Linked DNA regions of Homo sapiens. The protein of the gene in region 1 purifies or fractionates together with the protein of each later gene. This does not show direct contact. Each region holds a gene or a part of one and is shown on either strand. Other genes may lie near its edges.

Region 1 (8,081 bases):
CACCCGGCATCCAGACCCAGCCCTGTCCTTACTGGCTGTGTGACCACGAGCAAGGGGCTTGACCTCCCTGAGCCTCAGTGTTCTTATTCATTCATTCAGAGGCCCTTATTGAGCTCTTGCTATATTCCAGGCCCTCCTCTGTGTGTCTGGGGATACAACTATGAACAAACTGACTTCATGGAACTTACATCTTGATACTTACATCTTGATCCACACTAGGCTGGTGGTGTCCACTCCTTCCCCATGGAGTGCCCCTAGCCTTGCCTGGGTACTCATTCTCCTCAAGACACCTACTCATCCTTTCCTGTGCCCCAGCTGAATGGAAAATGTGTGTTCTTTGAGGAGAGGGTGCAGAAGTAAAGCACAGCCCCAGGGATGGGGCTGAGCAGATGCTGCCTGTGTGTGGGGAGCAGGGTGCCTGGTTGTAATACTGCCTTTCTCTCCAGGGGGATCTCATCCTCTTCTCCTCCCGATGGGTCCCGGGGCCCGGAGAGGGACACTGTGGCCCTGATAAAGGAGTTAAGACAACAAACAGATGAGATAAGTAAAGCATCGAGTATGTTAGATAGTGATGACTGCTACGGAGAAAAAAATAAAGCAGGAAAGAGAATGGAAAATGCTGAGATGGGGGATGGGTCCCCTCGGGCCGACCTGGGGTAGAGTCACCTGTTGGCCAAATGGGGGCTGATCCATTGTGGTAGCTGTGGTGTGTGGTGTGTGTGGCACGTGTGTTGAAAATCTAGGGTGCCCAGAAAAGCCTTCCTGCTTGAAGGAGCTGAGAAAGTATGCTGTGCATTCCAGTGGAAGAGCATTCTAAGTAGAGGGGAGAGCCCGAGCAAAGGCCCCGAGGCAGGAGCATGACTGGTGTGCTCCAGGAAGATCCAAGAGGCCAGGGGAGCTGAAGTGCAGTAGATGAGTGGCAGGGTGGCAAAAGATGAAGTCAGAGAAGCAGGAAGATGTGTGTCGGGGTGTTGGGGGGTGGACATCAAGCGTCTCAGAGGGCGAGAGTGAGGATTGCATAAAGCCAGGCATATAGAGGCTGAAGTCTGACACATAGCAAGTATTCAATAAAAGCGGTGCTGGTCATAGTTGGGGCTCTGAGTAGCAGCAGGAAGGGCCAGTCCTAGGACATCAATGCCTCTGAAAGTTTAAGCAGTGGGGGTTGCCCCCAGGTCTGGGTCCCACCACCAGGCCTGGGTCCCTTCCAGCCCCGCTTTGCCCCACTTCACTTCTTAGGCTGCAGTGACAAACTCCAAGAGTGAGGTTAGGTGTCAGGAGGGAGAGGGAGATGACACAGTGCATGGTAAGGAAGGGGGCTGTGGCTCCTCCCTGATTTTCCAGGAATGTCCCACCAGTTATCTGGGTCTGGGGAGAGGGATGGGGAAGGGGAGGAGAAGGTCCCACCTGCAGCAGCAGCTCCAGGCAGCCACAGAGTCTGTGCAGCTCGGCACTGGTGTCCGTCACTGGCCCCTGCCCATCCCCATAGCCCTGGAGGATGGCAGAGACGGCAGCTGCTGGGAGGATGGCAGATGTCAGGTCGCTGAGGGAGGGGCTCCCAGACCCTGACTTCTCCCATGACTCAGTCCCAGAGCATCTCTCAGGACACACTCACCTCTTAGGTCTTTGGTGACCTTGAGGATGGCTCCCTCTTCTGCCATGGGTACTTGGAAATGATGTGATTCCTTGCAACTTGGACTGTGAGCTCAGGAAGGACTTTCGGCCTCACTGCCCAGCTCTCTCCTTACACAAAGCAGGACGCAGAGCCTACAGAGGGAAAGTGACTAATCTTGGGTGACATAGCAAGTTACCTAGTAGGGGGAGAATCCCAGCTCTATCTTGTAGGCCAGTGTGTGAAGATGATGGTGTGGCCTCCACCGATTGAGCAGTCCCTGGGTGACGACACTGTGCTAACACTTGATGTCCTTGTCCCATTCAATCCTCACATAATCCTGGAGGTTATTAACTCCATTTTAGACCAGGAGAAACAGGGGATTGGAGAGGGTAAGTCTTTTATCCAGCATCACAGAGGTACCCAGGACTTGAACTCAGGTGTCTGTGCCCACAGGGCCTGTGTTCTGGGTCCTGACTTGGTGTGAGTGACCCCGTGAGGGCTCATGATATGTGGACACTAGGCTGGGGGTGTCCACTCCTTCCCCATGGAGTGCCCCTAGCCTTGCCTGGGTACTCAGTCTCCTCGAGACACCTACTCATCCTTTCCTGTGCCCCAGCTGAATGGAAAATATGTGTTCTTTGAGGAGAGGGTGCAGAAGTAAAGCACGGCCCCAGGGCTGGGGCTGAGCACATGCTGCGTGTGTGTGGGGAGCAGGGCGCCTGGTTGTAATACTGCCTTTCTCTCCAGGGGGATCTCATCCTCTTCTCCTCCCCATGGGTCCTGGGGCCCAGAGAGGGACACTGTGGCCCTGACAGCTGGTGGCCTTATTCTGAGATCCTAGAGTCAAGACCAGGCATGGAGCGGAAAACCCAGGTGTCCTGCCTCCCGGGCTGTGGCTGTTGGAGTTTGGGGTGGGGTGGCAGTGGTACAGCAGTGGGACACAGTGGAGGGAAGGGGAGAGGGAAACGGAGGTAAATGAGGGAGGTGGGTGGAGCATGGGATTCAGGGAGGACGGGGTCAGGAGTCCAGAGACCTGGGTCTCCATCCTGGCCTGGCTATGAACTCACTGTGTGATCTCCGGCAAATCACTCACCTTCCTTGAGCCTCAGTTTCCCAACCTGTAGACCAAAGATTGGACTGATGGTCTCGGCAGCCCCTTCCAGCCCAGATCCTGTGTGAAATCCATGAACGGCTCCATGTGTCTCCTCCTCTCCCTCGTCTCTGCCAGGCATTTTCCTCCCCTGGCTCCTGGCATCACACTCCTTCTATCCCCGTAAGTTCCAGGGGTCTCCCTGCTACTCACCCAGGAGAGCCTGGCTGGCTGGGGCACGAGAGCGCAGCTCTGCTGCCAGAGTCCGTCCCTAGTGACTCTGCCTTGCACAGCAGTCCCAGGATTTACAGCCTGGGAAGAAGTAACTCAGTCCCAGCCCAGCAGCCTGGAGGGGGAACCTGGCTCACAGCGGTGGGGGAACCGCAGACGCTGCAGGGAAGAAGTGGTAGAGGCAGGATCCAGGGCGCTGGGGCAGAATGGTGAGATGGGGGATGGGTCCTCTCAGGCCCACCTGGGGTAGAGTCACCTGTTGGCCAAATGGGGGCTGATCCATTGTGGTAGCTGGGACTGCTGCTAGTTTCCTTTTCGTTTTCAGCACCTGCTCTTGCTTTTCTCCTTCTCACCACCAGGGGGCAGAGGGAGGCCATGGAGCTCCGCAGCTGCTATTCCTGTGGTTGTCTCGTCTCTGTCACTTGGTTGGGCTGAGAGGCAGCGCTCCAGAGTGGGGAGGGCAGGGCGAGGGTCCCACCACGCTCCTCCTTCCTTCTCCACCTCAGTCAGCTGAGCGGTCCACCTGAGTGCTGGTCACCAGTGCCGAATCCCTAGTCCTGATCTCATTCCCAAAAGGATGGATGTGAGACCACCAGTGAGATCCTGTGCCCAGCAATGGGCCAGGTGGGTTTCCCAGGTGGGCTGGGGCTTCCCTTCCTGGCTGTGCTCTGCCTCCTTGAGGCTGGGGTCTTTCCATGCTGGGTCCTCGTTTCTCCAGGCTGGGCTGCTGCAGGGGCTAGTATGGGGGCAGAGGAGCAGGGGCCTGGGAGGACGGCTGTTTTCACAAACCCCAGGAACCGCATCTAAAAACCAGCACAAGGGATGCCCCAGCCCGTCTGCCCTCTCCTCCGTCCCTATATCCCCCATGCAGAGGCTGAAACCCCCATCTCTGTCTCCCGTGTCATGTCCCTGTCTCCCATCCCTGTCTTTCCCTCATTCCTTCCCTTTCTCTGTTCCCTGTGTCTCACTTTGCACCCTTGGTCTCTTTCTTGCCCTCCCAATTCAGTCTGTCTGAGGCCCTGTCCAGGATCCCTGCCCCTGCGCTCCTCCAGCACCCTGCCCTTCTCCAGCCCCCTGCCTCCCTCCAGTCCCCTGCCCTCCTCTAACCCCCTGCCATCCTCCAGCCCCCTGCCCTCCTCCAGTCCCCTGCCCTCCTCTAACCCCCTGCCATCCTCCAGTCCCCTGCCCTCCTCCAGTCCCCTGCCCTCCTCCAGTCCCCTGCTGTCCTCCAGCCCCCTGCCCTCCTCCAGGTCTGAGCTGGGAGGCAGGTGTCTGCCAGGGAACCACTCTGCCTGGTACAGGTGTGGCGCTGGTTTCTCCCTGGGAGAGTAAGAGGAGGTGTTTGGCATCACCAGGGATGGGTAACTCCTCTCTAGGTCCCTGTGACCTCAGGACTCCCTGTTGGTGGGTCTCCTTGCTTCACCCCATGTCCCTGCCTCCCCACCTCCCACACAGCCAGCTTTGACACGGATGAGGGGGTGCCTGTTGGGCCAGGCTAGGGTGGGCAGGAGCAGGGACAGTCAGTGGGGCTGGGATGGAGCGAGGTGCCAGGGGCAGTGGAGGTGGATGATCAAGGCGAGAAGGAGGGGAAGGTGTGTGTGCTGGTGTGCAACAGTGGCAGGGACAGGGATGGGGATGAGTGTCTATCTGCATCAGATGAGCTGGTTTCTAAGCGGCCTCTTGGGAGAGCCTGGAGCTTGCCTGTGACTCCCTCCCTCCTCTAACTGTGGGGAACAAGCTCCATCCCAGCTGGTGTGCCCTGACTCTGGCTCCAGTGGGGGTTGCTGCTGCTTGGGGCTCCCCTCTTCAGGGGCTTAGGGAAGAGCAGCCTGCACCCATCACCTGGGCCCTCACTAGAGGAGGTGTGATACCCTCGTTCTTGGGGTGGATAAACATCTACTGGGTGCTGATCCCCTCAGGAGCCAAGGCTCAGTGGCTACCCGGACATCTGGGCTGCCTGCCAGGGCACTCCTACTGCCAGTCCTGCTACTTCCATGCCCCTATTCCTCTCCTGGCTCTCCTGGAGCCCTCCCATGTGTGCTGTGTGTATATGGATTGGGAGGGCAGAAGGCAGAGCAAGGGGCCCGGGAGGTGGGGCAGCCATCTGCGGGGTGGTGCCAGTGGCTGGGGTTAGAGACATTATGAGCCAGGGAGGGGGCTAAGTGGGGCCACGACTAACTTGGGAGAAAGGACCGGATGCGGAGATGGCTTGTACATGGGTGATAAAGAGCGGGAGGAAGTTGAAAATGACCTCTCTCATCTCACAGAGACGGTGACTGACAAGGCAGCTTCAGACATTTGTCTGTATTAGCGTGTTGAAATATTTCGTAAATACAGAAAAGTGTACAAAATTCCCACTGACTAAACACACAGGTGTATCGGTATCCTCAGCTCTCAGAGTCTAGAAATTACCATTAAAGCAACAGTAATCAAGACAGTGTGGTGTTTGTGAAAGAACAAGGAAACGGAAAATCTGTCACATTTTGAAAGACATTATGAAGACGCGACAATCCAATGTAATGTGAGATCCTGGATTGGGTTCTGGAACAGAAAACAGACATTTCAGAATATGGTGACATTTTCATAAGGCTCACAGTCCTCTGAATAGCATTGCAGCAATGCAAATTAGTTAGTTTGGACACATGTGGCACGTAATGTAAGACGTTATCTTTAGGAAAAGCTGGTGGAGGGTATATGAGACCTGTACTGTCTGTACCGTCATTGAATCTCTTCTGTTAACACATAATTATTTTAAAATAAAAAGTTAAAATAAAAAAGAAGTGAGATTCCTGGCCTGCAATCACAAAATGAATTGGAAATAGCATAAAGCAGAGTGCTGTAGAAACGTTGACAGTTGGCTGGGCGTGGTGGCTCACGCCTGTAATCCCAGCACTTTGGGAGGCTGAGGCAGGAGGATCACCTGAGGTCAGGAATTCGAGACCAACATGGCAAAACCCCGTCCCTACTAAAAATACAAAAATTAGCTGAGTGTGGTTGCAGGCGCCTGTAATCCCAGCTTCTGGGGAGGCTGAGGCAGGAGAATCCCTTGAACCTGGGAGGTGGAGGTTGCAGTGAGCTGAGATTGTGCCACTGCGCTCCAGCCTGGGCGACAAGAGCAAAATTCCTTCTCAAAAAAAAAAAAAAAAAAAAAAAGAAAAGAAAAGATGACAGTTGCTATATTGTTATCATCATCATCATCATCTCAGCAACCATCCTTCCCCACCTAGCAGCACTTTGGACATTTCTCTGCACCTGTGTCTCTTCTATGGGGTCCTGGCCCTCTCAAGGCCCTGATGCCTCCCTGTTCCCTTCCCCACCCCCCTTGTCCCCCAAGTCTTCTGGCCCCACCCCTCCTGTCCCCAGGGAGGCTGCTAGGCCAGTGGCTGAAGGAGGGGCAGCCACACTCCCTGGTGATCTCCTGCCCCAAGTGTCTGTGCCCTGACACGGCCTGGCCAGAGCCGGCTAGAGTGCAGCCAGCAGGGCATTGCAGGGGTTAAAGGAGGCCATGGCTGGCAGAGGGGGCCCACTGCTGTCTGACTCCTGGAAGGAGGCGGTGCACTGCTGACCCGCCTCCTGGGCTGGTCTGGGAGGGAACCCCACTAGTAGAGCCCTCTGCTCAGTTGCTCCCAGCAGTGGCCCTGGGGCCAGCTCTGCTCCTTGCATCCCGCTCCCTGCTTGGACACAGGCTCACTCGCTGCCTTCTTCTGGGAAACCAGCTTCTTGCCAGCCACAGCTGCTACTCCCACCACCAGCCACCACTCCTGTCCTGGGAATCCCTTGTCCCAGACACCCACCTCATTCAGTGGCTCCTCTACAGGAAAGGTGAGTGAGTGAGTGGGGCTGGCAGGCCCGGCAAGGTTAGGGTTCAAAGCACTGTCTCCATCTCCACTCTAAAGCATGGGCCCTGCTCCCTTGCCCTTGGGCAAAGCCTGGCAGGAGCACGCCCTGCACCTTCCCCAGCACAAGCCCTTCCTCCTTCCTCGCCCCTCTGGGCAGAAATGGCCAATCAAGGTGGTTAATGAGCAGACTGAAGCTGCCTCCCCTCTGCCCCTCCCTCTCCCCCCACCCCTCCTCTCCTACTCTGACTCTGATGCCCTGCCTGCAGTGGGCCAGGGAGAGGGCTGAGTGGGGCCACGACTAATTTTGGATAAAGGACTCGATGTGGAGATGGCTTGGGTGTGGGTGGGAAGGAGTGGGAGGACGTTGAAAATGGCCCCTCTCATCTCACAAAGATGAGATGATTCTCCACCCGTTCCCAGGCTGGAGAATCCATATGGAGCTGACCTCAGTGTCTGTCCCCCAACCCCCAATCCAGAACTTGCGCTAGGACTGCCTGCCCAGATGTTTTAGGCTGGCCTCTGTTCTAGACAAGGAAACGGGATCGGGGTGATGAAGGGGGACCCGGAGAAGCCTGCTGTGCTTCAAGGCTGGGCTCCCTGCAGGGGAGGGGATGGGGTTAGGGGATAGGATGGGTGCTGGGTGGGGAGGAACTGGAGGGGGAGGGCAGGCAGGCAGGCGGTTGTGGGATGGGAATAGGAGGGGGACCTGGAAACTAGGGTGCCAGGGTCTTTGGGCACAGGGACTTCTCTTCTGGAAGCCCCAATTGCCCCTTCAGCATGGCACCAGTGGGGAAGGTGTAGGGGGAGCACCCTCTCTTCCCCTCCTAAAGCTGCCTGGGGTGGGTAAAGATCATGGTGGCTCAGACTTGGCCTCAAGTTGCACCTTCCCCTGCCAGCTGGTGGCCACTCCTGTATCCCCAACTCCAGCTCTCCCCGGACCTCAGTACTTGCTACAGCTGGGGCAACCCCTGCCTGAAACCTCTGGCCCAGGGTTGTGGGATGGAGCGAGGGAGGATGTGGATTGAGATGGAGAGGTGGGTGGGAGAGCCCCGAATGGGATCAGCACTGGAGACCCAACTTGGGGTTGGCTTGGACTCTGCTGCCCATGGAGGGCAGGGAGTTGGAGAGGAGTGGGCTGGTCCAGGCTGGGGAGGGTCTTGGCCAGTCTGGCTGACCACCAGAGCTGGGAGCCAGCACTGTAACCAGGAGCTGAAGGTTCTTGGTGGTGGAGGAGGCACCCTGGGGCCCTCTGCTTCCAGGCGCCTGGCCTTGAGCCCTTCTGGCTCTGCTTCCCCATCCCTCATCCCAT
Region 2 (8,062 bases), on another chromosome or scaffold:
CTCTCAAAAAAAAAAAAAAAAAAAACACAACCTGACCTCACACCTGTGATCTCAACACTTTGGGAGGCCAAGTCGAGTGGATCGCCTGAGGTCAGGAGTTCGAGACCAGCCTGGCCAACATGGCAAAACCCTTTCTCTACTAAAAATACAAAAATTAGCCAGGCTTGGTGGCATGCACCTATAATTCCAGCTACTTGGGAGGCTGAGGCACGGGAATCGCTTGAACCCAGGGAGGAGGAGGTTACAGTGAACTGAGATCACACCACTGCACTCCAGCCTGGGTGACAAAGTAAGACTCTTTAAAAAAAAAAAAAAAAAGACACCTGCCACTGAGCCAGTTCTGGTATCTGAGACTAAGCTAATACAGGTATTAAAACAGCAAAAATATGTATCTTCAACTTGGTAGTTCCTCCATAGAGCTACTATAAAACCAGCAATCCAAGAGATCTGAAAACATGTGTCCACACCAGAAACATGTACAGGAATGTACATAGCAGTATTATTCCTCTTTTTCTGAGATGGAGTTTCGCTCTGTCACCCAGGCTGGAGTACAGTGGCAGGATTTCAGCTCACCTCAACCTCTGCCTCCCAGGTTCAAGCGATTCTCATGCCTCGGCCTCCCGGGTAGCTGGGACTACAGGCGTGAGCCACCATGCTCGGCTAATTTTTGTATTTTCCGTGGAGATAGGGTTTTGCCATGTTGTCCAGGCTGGTCTCGAACTCATGATCTCAGGTGATCCACCCGCCTCAGCCTCCCAAAGTGCTGGGATTACAGGCACAACATTATTCTTGTTTTTTGTTTGTTTGTTGTTTTGAGATGGAGTCTCACTCTGTCGCCAGGCTGGAAAGCAGTGGCGCGATCTCGGCTCACTGCAAACTCCGCCTCCCAGGTTCAAGGGATTCTACTGCCTCAGCCTCCCAAGTAGCTGGGACTACAGGCGCCCACCACCATGCCCAGCTAATTTTTGTATTTTTAGTAGAGAGGGGGTTTCACCATGTTGGCCGGGATGGTCTCGATCTCTTGACCTCGTGATCTGCCCGCCTCGGCCTCCCAAAGTGCTGGGATTACAGGCGTGAGCCACCATGCCTGGCCAGGCACAGCATTATTCTTAATAGCTAAGGAGTGAAAACAACACAAATGTCCATCAACTGCCTGATACACAAAATGTTAAATCTATACAATGGAATATTATTCAGCCACAGAAAGGAACAAAGTGCTGATGTAAGCCACAACATGAATAACTTTAGAGCACTGTGCTGAATGAAAGAAGCTAAATACAAAAGGCCACATGTTGTATGATTCCATTAATAGGAAATGCCCTGAATATGCAAATCTATATATATCGAAAGTAAACCGGTGGCCGCCAGGGGCTGTCGGAGGGGGGAATGAGGAGTGACTGCTAATGGGTATGGAGTTTCTTTCTGGGGTGATGAAAATGTTCTGGAATGACAATGGTAACACAAGTGTGAATATACTAAAAATTACTGAATTGGCCAGGCATGGTGGCTCACGCCTGTAATCCCAGTACTTTGGGAGGCCAAGGCGGGTGGATCACGAGGTCAGGAGTTCGAGAGCAGCCTGGCCAACAGAGTGAAACCCCGTCTCTACTAAAAATACAAAAAAAATGTAGCCGGGCATGGTGGCAGGCACCTGTAATCCCAGCTACTCAGGAGGCTGAGGCAGGAGAATCGCTTGAACCCAGGAGGCGGAGGGTGCAGTGAGCCAAGATCGTGCCATTGCACTCCAGCCCAGGCGACAGTGCGAGACTCCGTCTCAAAAAAAAAAAAAAAAGAAAAATCACTGAATTGTACACTTTAAAGCAGTGGATTTTATGGCAGGTAATCGAGGCTCAATGAAGCTGTTATTTTTGACACACTAGATTTCTGAAACATTTATTGTTTACATGTTTCCGGACAACTGTTTTTCCCTCTACACTACTAGTCCTCCACACAATTAAAAAAACGAACAAACACACACAACAAAACCTAGCCAGATCTTTAGGACGGCAATGTTCCTGGGCCTCCAACATCATCCACCCGGTGCTTTGTTTCAGGTTAACAAATAAAGATGTCATAGGTAGCTATGACTACCTTAGAAACACGGGACAGTCACCAGTTTAAACTGGGGCCGTGAGGGATGGAAGGGAAGTCACTCCCCCATACCTTTCAACTGGGCCTTGCTTCCAGCGTTTTAATTCCTCTCTCTATAGAAACATTTGAAGACAGACAACGCATCCTAACACGGGAAAACTTTCGGTTAACAGACATTCACGTTGGGAAGGTCTGCAGGGGTGGAGGGGATTGGGGTGGGCTGACAGGGAGAAGACCACAGGCCAGTAGCCTGACTTCCTCTCCCCAGGGTTCCCTGGGATAAGTTGGAGTTGACAGCGCGCTTATCCCAGAGAGCACCGCCTGATGCCGCCCAGCTAGATCGCAGGCACTTTGAATCCAGGAGACAGGAGGGAAAGGGCTAGGGGAGAAGTCCGGGAACTCAGGGCGGGGAAAGCGCCGGGGGCGTGGGCTGTGCTGGGCCCCAGGCCCCAGCCGCGCGTCCCAGACCCCGCGGGCTCCAGTGGGCTTAGCCAGGCCCAGGGGCGGGGGGCTCCAGCGCCGCGGACGGCCCGGGAGGGGAAGCCAGGCGGAGACAGCTCGGAGGCACAGAGGGGAAGGGGACCCCCGCCGCGAGCTCGGGAGAGCAGAGCCGGCCCGGGCAGCAGGTGTGGGCCGGGTCCCGGACAGGTGTCCGCCGAGTCTTCAGCGGGTGTGGGACACGGCCTTGGACAGATGTAAGCAGAGCGCCAACAGGAGCAAGGGCGCCTCGAGCAGGTGCACGCTGAACCCCGGCCCGGCAGCGGACCCGGACAGGTGTGGCGGGCTCCGCCCGGACAGGTGAGGGCCGGGCGAGCCCCTCCGCGGGACGCGCCGACTCCACGGCCAGCCGCGCAGCCCTCCCCGCAGCCGGTCCGAATTGCCTGACCGGGAGCCCCCCCGCTTTGCACTTACACAGCCGGTGGCCCCGGGCCCGGAGCGGGAGCCCACGACCTGGCGGGCAGCGGGGCCGAGCAGCCTCTGCGGCCACTTCCCAGGCTCTGGGCTGGCGCTTCCTACTGGCGGCCGAGCCGGCGCTGCTCCTGCGCGTGCGCGGAGGCCAGGCCTGGGCCCCCGATCCGTCCCGGGTTTTGCAAGAGACGCGAGGGAAGCAAGGGGGTAGGAGCGAGGGAGAAAAGAGGAAGGAGGAGCGAGGGAGAGAAGAGGGGACAGGGAGGGAGGGGACATGGGGAGGGAGGAGGAGGAGGGAGGAGGGAGAGAAAAAGGTGGGGTGAAAGAAGGAGGGAGGAGGAGCGAGGGAGAGAAGCGGGGACGGGGAGGGAGGAGGAGGAGAGTAGGAGGAGGAGGGGTGAAAGAAGGAGGGAGGGGCAGCGAGAGAGAGAAGCGGGGGACAGGGAGAGGGTGGAGGAGGGAGGAGGGAGGGAAAAAGGAGGGGTGAAAGGAGGGAGGAAGAGGAGGAGGGAAGGAGGGAGATGGAGGGAGATGGAGCGAGGAGGGAGGGAGGGACCGGAGCAAGAGAACAGAGACTAGGAGGAAAGCTTCTGCACCTGGGGCGGCGCAGCTGGAAGGAGGCCCAGTTCTGTCCCCGCCGCTTACCAGTCCTTCAGGGCGCGCAGCTCAAATTTCACTTCCTCTGTGAAGCTCAGGGGTGGAGGCCCCGCGGAAGCCCACTGTGGATCCCTGCGGCACCCCCTGTGACCCTCACGGTACCCCCCGTGACTCCCACGGTCGTGCCCCCCACGTGGGTGGGTGACCGTGGCGCGCGCGGCCTGGGAGCGCCTCCAGGATCGCAGGGCCCGGGAGGCACGTGAGGTGCGAGCCCCAGCCTGGGCCGGCTTCCCCCTGTGTGGCGCGCGGTCTTGATCCCCAGCTGGCACCATGGCACTCCCGACTTTGAGGGCCCCAACAATCCATCCACATAAAAGGTTCCAAAGAGGCGACAGGGGCTAGGACAGCTGTCGTTAGTTCAGTGCCAAGGCGCCAAGCTTGCTAAGTGCGGGCAGAAGCCATTTAAGGATTTAAACCCCTCTGGGTTCAAAAATAAAATAAAATAAAGCAGGAGATGGGGGAGGCTTACAGACTTAAGATGCCCAGCACATGAATTAACAGTGGCATCCGCAGGGAAAATTGAAAACAGAGAGCCGCTCTCCGTTATGTATGTTTAATGTTCTGTTTGAATCTTTTAACATGTACATGTATTTCTTTTTCAATTAAAAAATCCTGGCCAGGAGAAATGGCTCACACCTGTAATCCCAACACTTTGGGAGACTGAGGCGGGTGGATCACTTGAGGTTAGGAGTTCAAGACCAGCCTGGCCAACATGGTGAAACCCCGTCTCTACTAAAAATACAAAATTAGCCAGATGTGGTGGCGCGCGCCTGTAATCCCAGCTACTCAGCAGGCTGAGGCAGGAGAATCGCTTGAACCTGGAAGACAGAGGTTTCAGTGAGCCGAGATCATGCGATTGCACTCCAGCCTGGGCAACAACTGCAAAACTCTATCTCAAACAACAACAACAACAAACACTAAAAAGGGCTGGGTGTGGTGGCTCACACCTGTAATCTCAGCACTTCGGGAAGCCAAGGCGGGTGGATCACCTGAGGTCAGGAGTTCAAGATCATCCTGGGCAACATGGTGAAACTCCAGTCTCCACTAAAAATACAAAAATTAGTTGAGCGTGGTGGTACATGCCTGTAATCCCAGCTACTAGGCAGTCTGAGGCAGGAGAATCTCTTGAACCCGGGAGGCGGGGGCTGCAGTAAACCAAGATCACACCACTGCACTCCAGCCTGGGTGACAGAGAGAGCCCATCTCAAAAAAAAAAAAAAAAAAAATCCTAAAATGGAAAAGTAAAGAGGACAGGAGTGGTTTTCTCAGCACATACAGCAGCAAGGGAGAAATGGTCTGAGCCAGCATTTTTCCTTTCAGCCAGCAGGCACTTACCCGCTCTGGGCTATGTGACCAGGGCTGTTTTATTATCACATGTGTTATAAAATAAGATACTATCCCTCATCCCTGCTCAGGGCTAGTGGAAAACCAATTGAGTTTTTATTGAATTATTTTCTACAGAGTCAGAATGAGTTATAAATAAAACATATCTTCAGGGCAAAACAAATAGAGCTGATTTCCAGCCTGCCAGACAGCCAGGAAGTTTTCAACAGAGGTGCCCAGGGGCTGAGGAAGAGTGTCTCCCTGACAACGCACAAGCTGCCCAACGTGGCTACCTCATGGTGTTACGACCGCATGGAGGCCGTGCAGTGGCTCACAGCTGTAATCCCAGCACTTTGGGAGGCCGAAGCAGACGGATTGCTTGAGCCCAGGAGTTTAAGACCAGCCTGGGCAACACAGGGAAACTCTGTCTCTTGGAAAAAATACCAAAATTAGCTGGGCAGGATGGCACAAACCTGTAGCCACAGCTACTCAGGAGACTGAGGCAAGAGGATCGCTTGAGTCCAGCCAGGTCGAGGCTGCAGTAAACCATGATCACTCTAGCCTGGGAGAGACAGCAAGACCCTGTCTCAAAAAAAAAGTGGTTTTTTTTATTTTTTTTAAATGAATAAATAAACAAAAGAGCGTATGGGCTTAACAGAGAATACAGAAAAGATACATTTAAAAGGCCACTGCTAATGGAGGTCTGAGTGCAGAAACTAGGCTCCAAGCTTACCTCATAAGATCCAAGCAAGGGAGCTATTTTTAGTGCTGAAGTCCAGAAAGGATACCCTACTTGGCTGGGGTCACACAAATGGCTGGTGCTATTTAGGGATTCAAATCCAGGGCTGTCAGACCCCACAGACTCTACTTTTTGCATAGGTCTTTTCTTATTCTGTCTGTAAGTGGATAAGGCAAGCAACTTGGAAAGCAAGATTGAAAGCTGGCAAAAGGAAACATTGCTTATTTGCAATGTACACACTTCAATCAATTTATGTTGCTGTCTCAGCAAATCTGTGGGGGAAGGAGAGCGGGGACTATTATTCTGCTTTTTTTTAAATTTATTTATTTACTTTTTTGAGACAGAGTCTCACTCTGTCACCCAGGCTGGAGTATAGTGGCACGATCTCAGCTCACTGCAACCTCCACCTCCCGGGTTCACGCGATTCTCCTGCCTCAGCCTCCTGAGTAGCTGAGATTACAGGTGCGCGCCACCACACTCGGCTAATTTTTGTATTTTTAGTAGAGACGGGGTTTCACCGTGTTGGTCAGGCTGGTCTCGAACTCCTGACCTCATGATCCTCCCACCTCGGCCTCCCAAAGTGCTGGTATTATTACTCTGCATTTTTACCAATGAGAAAACGGAGGCTCAGAGAGTGTAAGAGCCTGCCACAGCCCAGCCCACAATGATCAAATGAGAACATCCAAAGCAGTCCCCGTACTGTCTAGGTCCTGGGGCTGTGCTCCTTTAGCATCTTTAACATTTCCTAAGCATCTCCTCTGAAGGGTGACAATTCAAACATACAAAACCTGCCCTCAAGGAATTTACAGACATCTAAGGTTGGAAGGAATTTCTAAAATAACCAGGTCCAACCTCATACTCACACTCTCTCCCCTCTACAAAAGTCCTAACAGGCAGAATGCTTTGATGATGTGGCTATTTGTCTTAGTTGGTTTGGGCAGATATAAGAAATTACTAGAACAACACTGAGATCAGGGCGCCAGCATGGGTAGGGTGTGATGAAGGTCATCTTCTGAATGGCAGATGGCTGGCTTCTTGTATTTTCACATGACAGATAGAGAGCAAACTAGCTGTCTGGTCTCTTTTTTTTTTTTTTTTTTAAGATAGAGTCTCACTCTTGTTGCCCAGGCTGGAGTGCAGTGGCGCAATCTCAGCTCACCACAACCTCCACCTCCTGGGTTCAAGCGATTCTCCTGCCTCAGCCTCCTGAGTACTTGGGATTACAGGCATGCACCTCCACACCCAGCTAATTTTTTGTATTTTTTAGTAGAGACAGGGTTTCTCCATGTTGGTCAGGCTGCTCTCAAACTCCCGACCTCAGGTGATTCGCCTGCCTCAGCCTCCCGAAGTGCTGGGATTACAGGCATGAGCCACCGCACCCGGCCTAATTTTGTATTTTAAGTAGAGGCACAGTTTCACCATGTTGGCCAGGCTGGTCTCGAACTCCTGACCTCAGGTGATCCACCTGCCTCAGCCTCCCAAAGTGCTGGGATTACAGGCATGAGCCACCGTGTCCAGCCTGGTCTCTTCTTAGAAGCGCACTAATCCCATTCATGGGGGTTCTGCCCTTATGACCTAATTACCTCCCAAAGGCCCCACATCCATATATGATCATATTGGGGAATAAATTTAAACATATGAATTTGGGAAGAACATGAACATTCAGTTCATAACAAGCTCTACAAGAAAATTATCCAGTAAACTCAGCCAGAATATGCTTCCCTGAAACATCCAGTCAAGGGGTCTCAAGAAATAGGACCAAGCTGGCCTCGGTATCTCATGTCTGTAATCCCAGCATTTTGAGAGGCCAAGGAGGGAGGATTGTTTGATCCCAGGAGCTAGAGATGAGCCCAAGCAACATAGCTAGACCCCATCTCCACACAAAATTTAAAAAATAGCCGGCACGATTGTGCACACCTGTAGTCCCAGCTACTTGGGATGCTGAGGTGAGAGGATTGCTTGAGCTCAGAAAGTCAAGGCTATAGTCAGCTCGATCGTGCCACTGCACTCCAGCCTGGGAGACAGAGCAAAGAGTGAAACTCTGTCTAAATATATATACACACACACATACACACACACACATATAATATATATATAATCTATATATGGGACTAATGCCCCACAAGGCTTGCTGAGGTTGACAATTATCACAGCTGTGAGTTAAAAGTACAGGCTGGGACAGGTACGGTGGCTCATACCTGTAATCCCAGCACTTTGGGAGGCCGAGGCAGGTGGATCACGAGGTCAGGAGTTTGACACCACCCTGGCCAACATGGCAAAACCCCGTCTCTACTAAAAATAATAATAATAATACAAAAATTAGCCGGGCGTGGTGGTGGGCGC

The links.
Region 2: the proteins of RUFY4 (region 1) and TRAPPC9 purify together in Homo sapiens (affinity purification with mass spectrometry; 3 studies listed by BioGRID and IntAct, with this or other methods). This does not show direct contact.

Annotation. Positions count from the first base shown.
Region 1 is NC_000002.12:218,064,183-218,072,263, reverse strand, and holds the start of RUFY4 (RUN and FYVE domain-containing protein 4), read right to left. Parts: upstream 3,012-8,081; 5' UTR 2,916-3,011; exon of another isoform or gene 2,784-2,915; 5' UTR 2,706-2,783; intron 1,765-2,705; 5' UTR 1,659-1,764; coding exon 1,613-1,658; intron 1,515-1,612; coding exon of another isoform or gene 1,512-1,514; coding exon 1,405-1,511; intron 1-1,404. UniProt on the Homo sapiens protein: ARL8 effector that promotes the coupling of endolysosomes to dynein-dynactin for retrograde transport along microtubules. Acts by binding both GTP-bound ARL8 and dynein-dynactin.
Region 2 is NC_000008.11:140,454,636-140,462,697, forward strand, and holds the start of TRAPPC9 (trafficking protein particle complex subunit 9), read right to left. Parts: upstream 3,110-8,062; 5' UTR 3,004-3,109; intron 1-3,003. UniProt on the Homo sapiens protein: Functions as an activator of NF-kappa-B through increased phosphorylation of the IKK complex. May function in neuronal cells differentiation. May play a role in vesicular transport from endoplasmic reticulum to Golgi.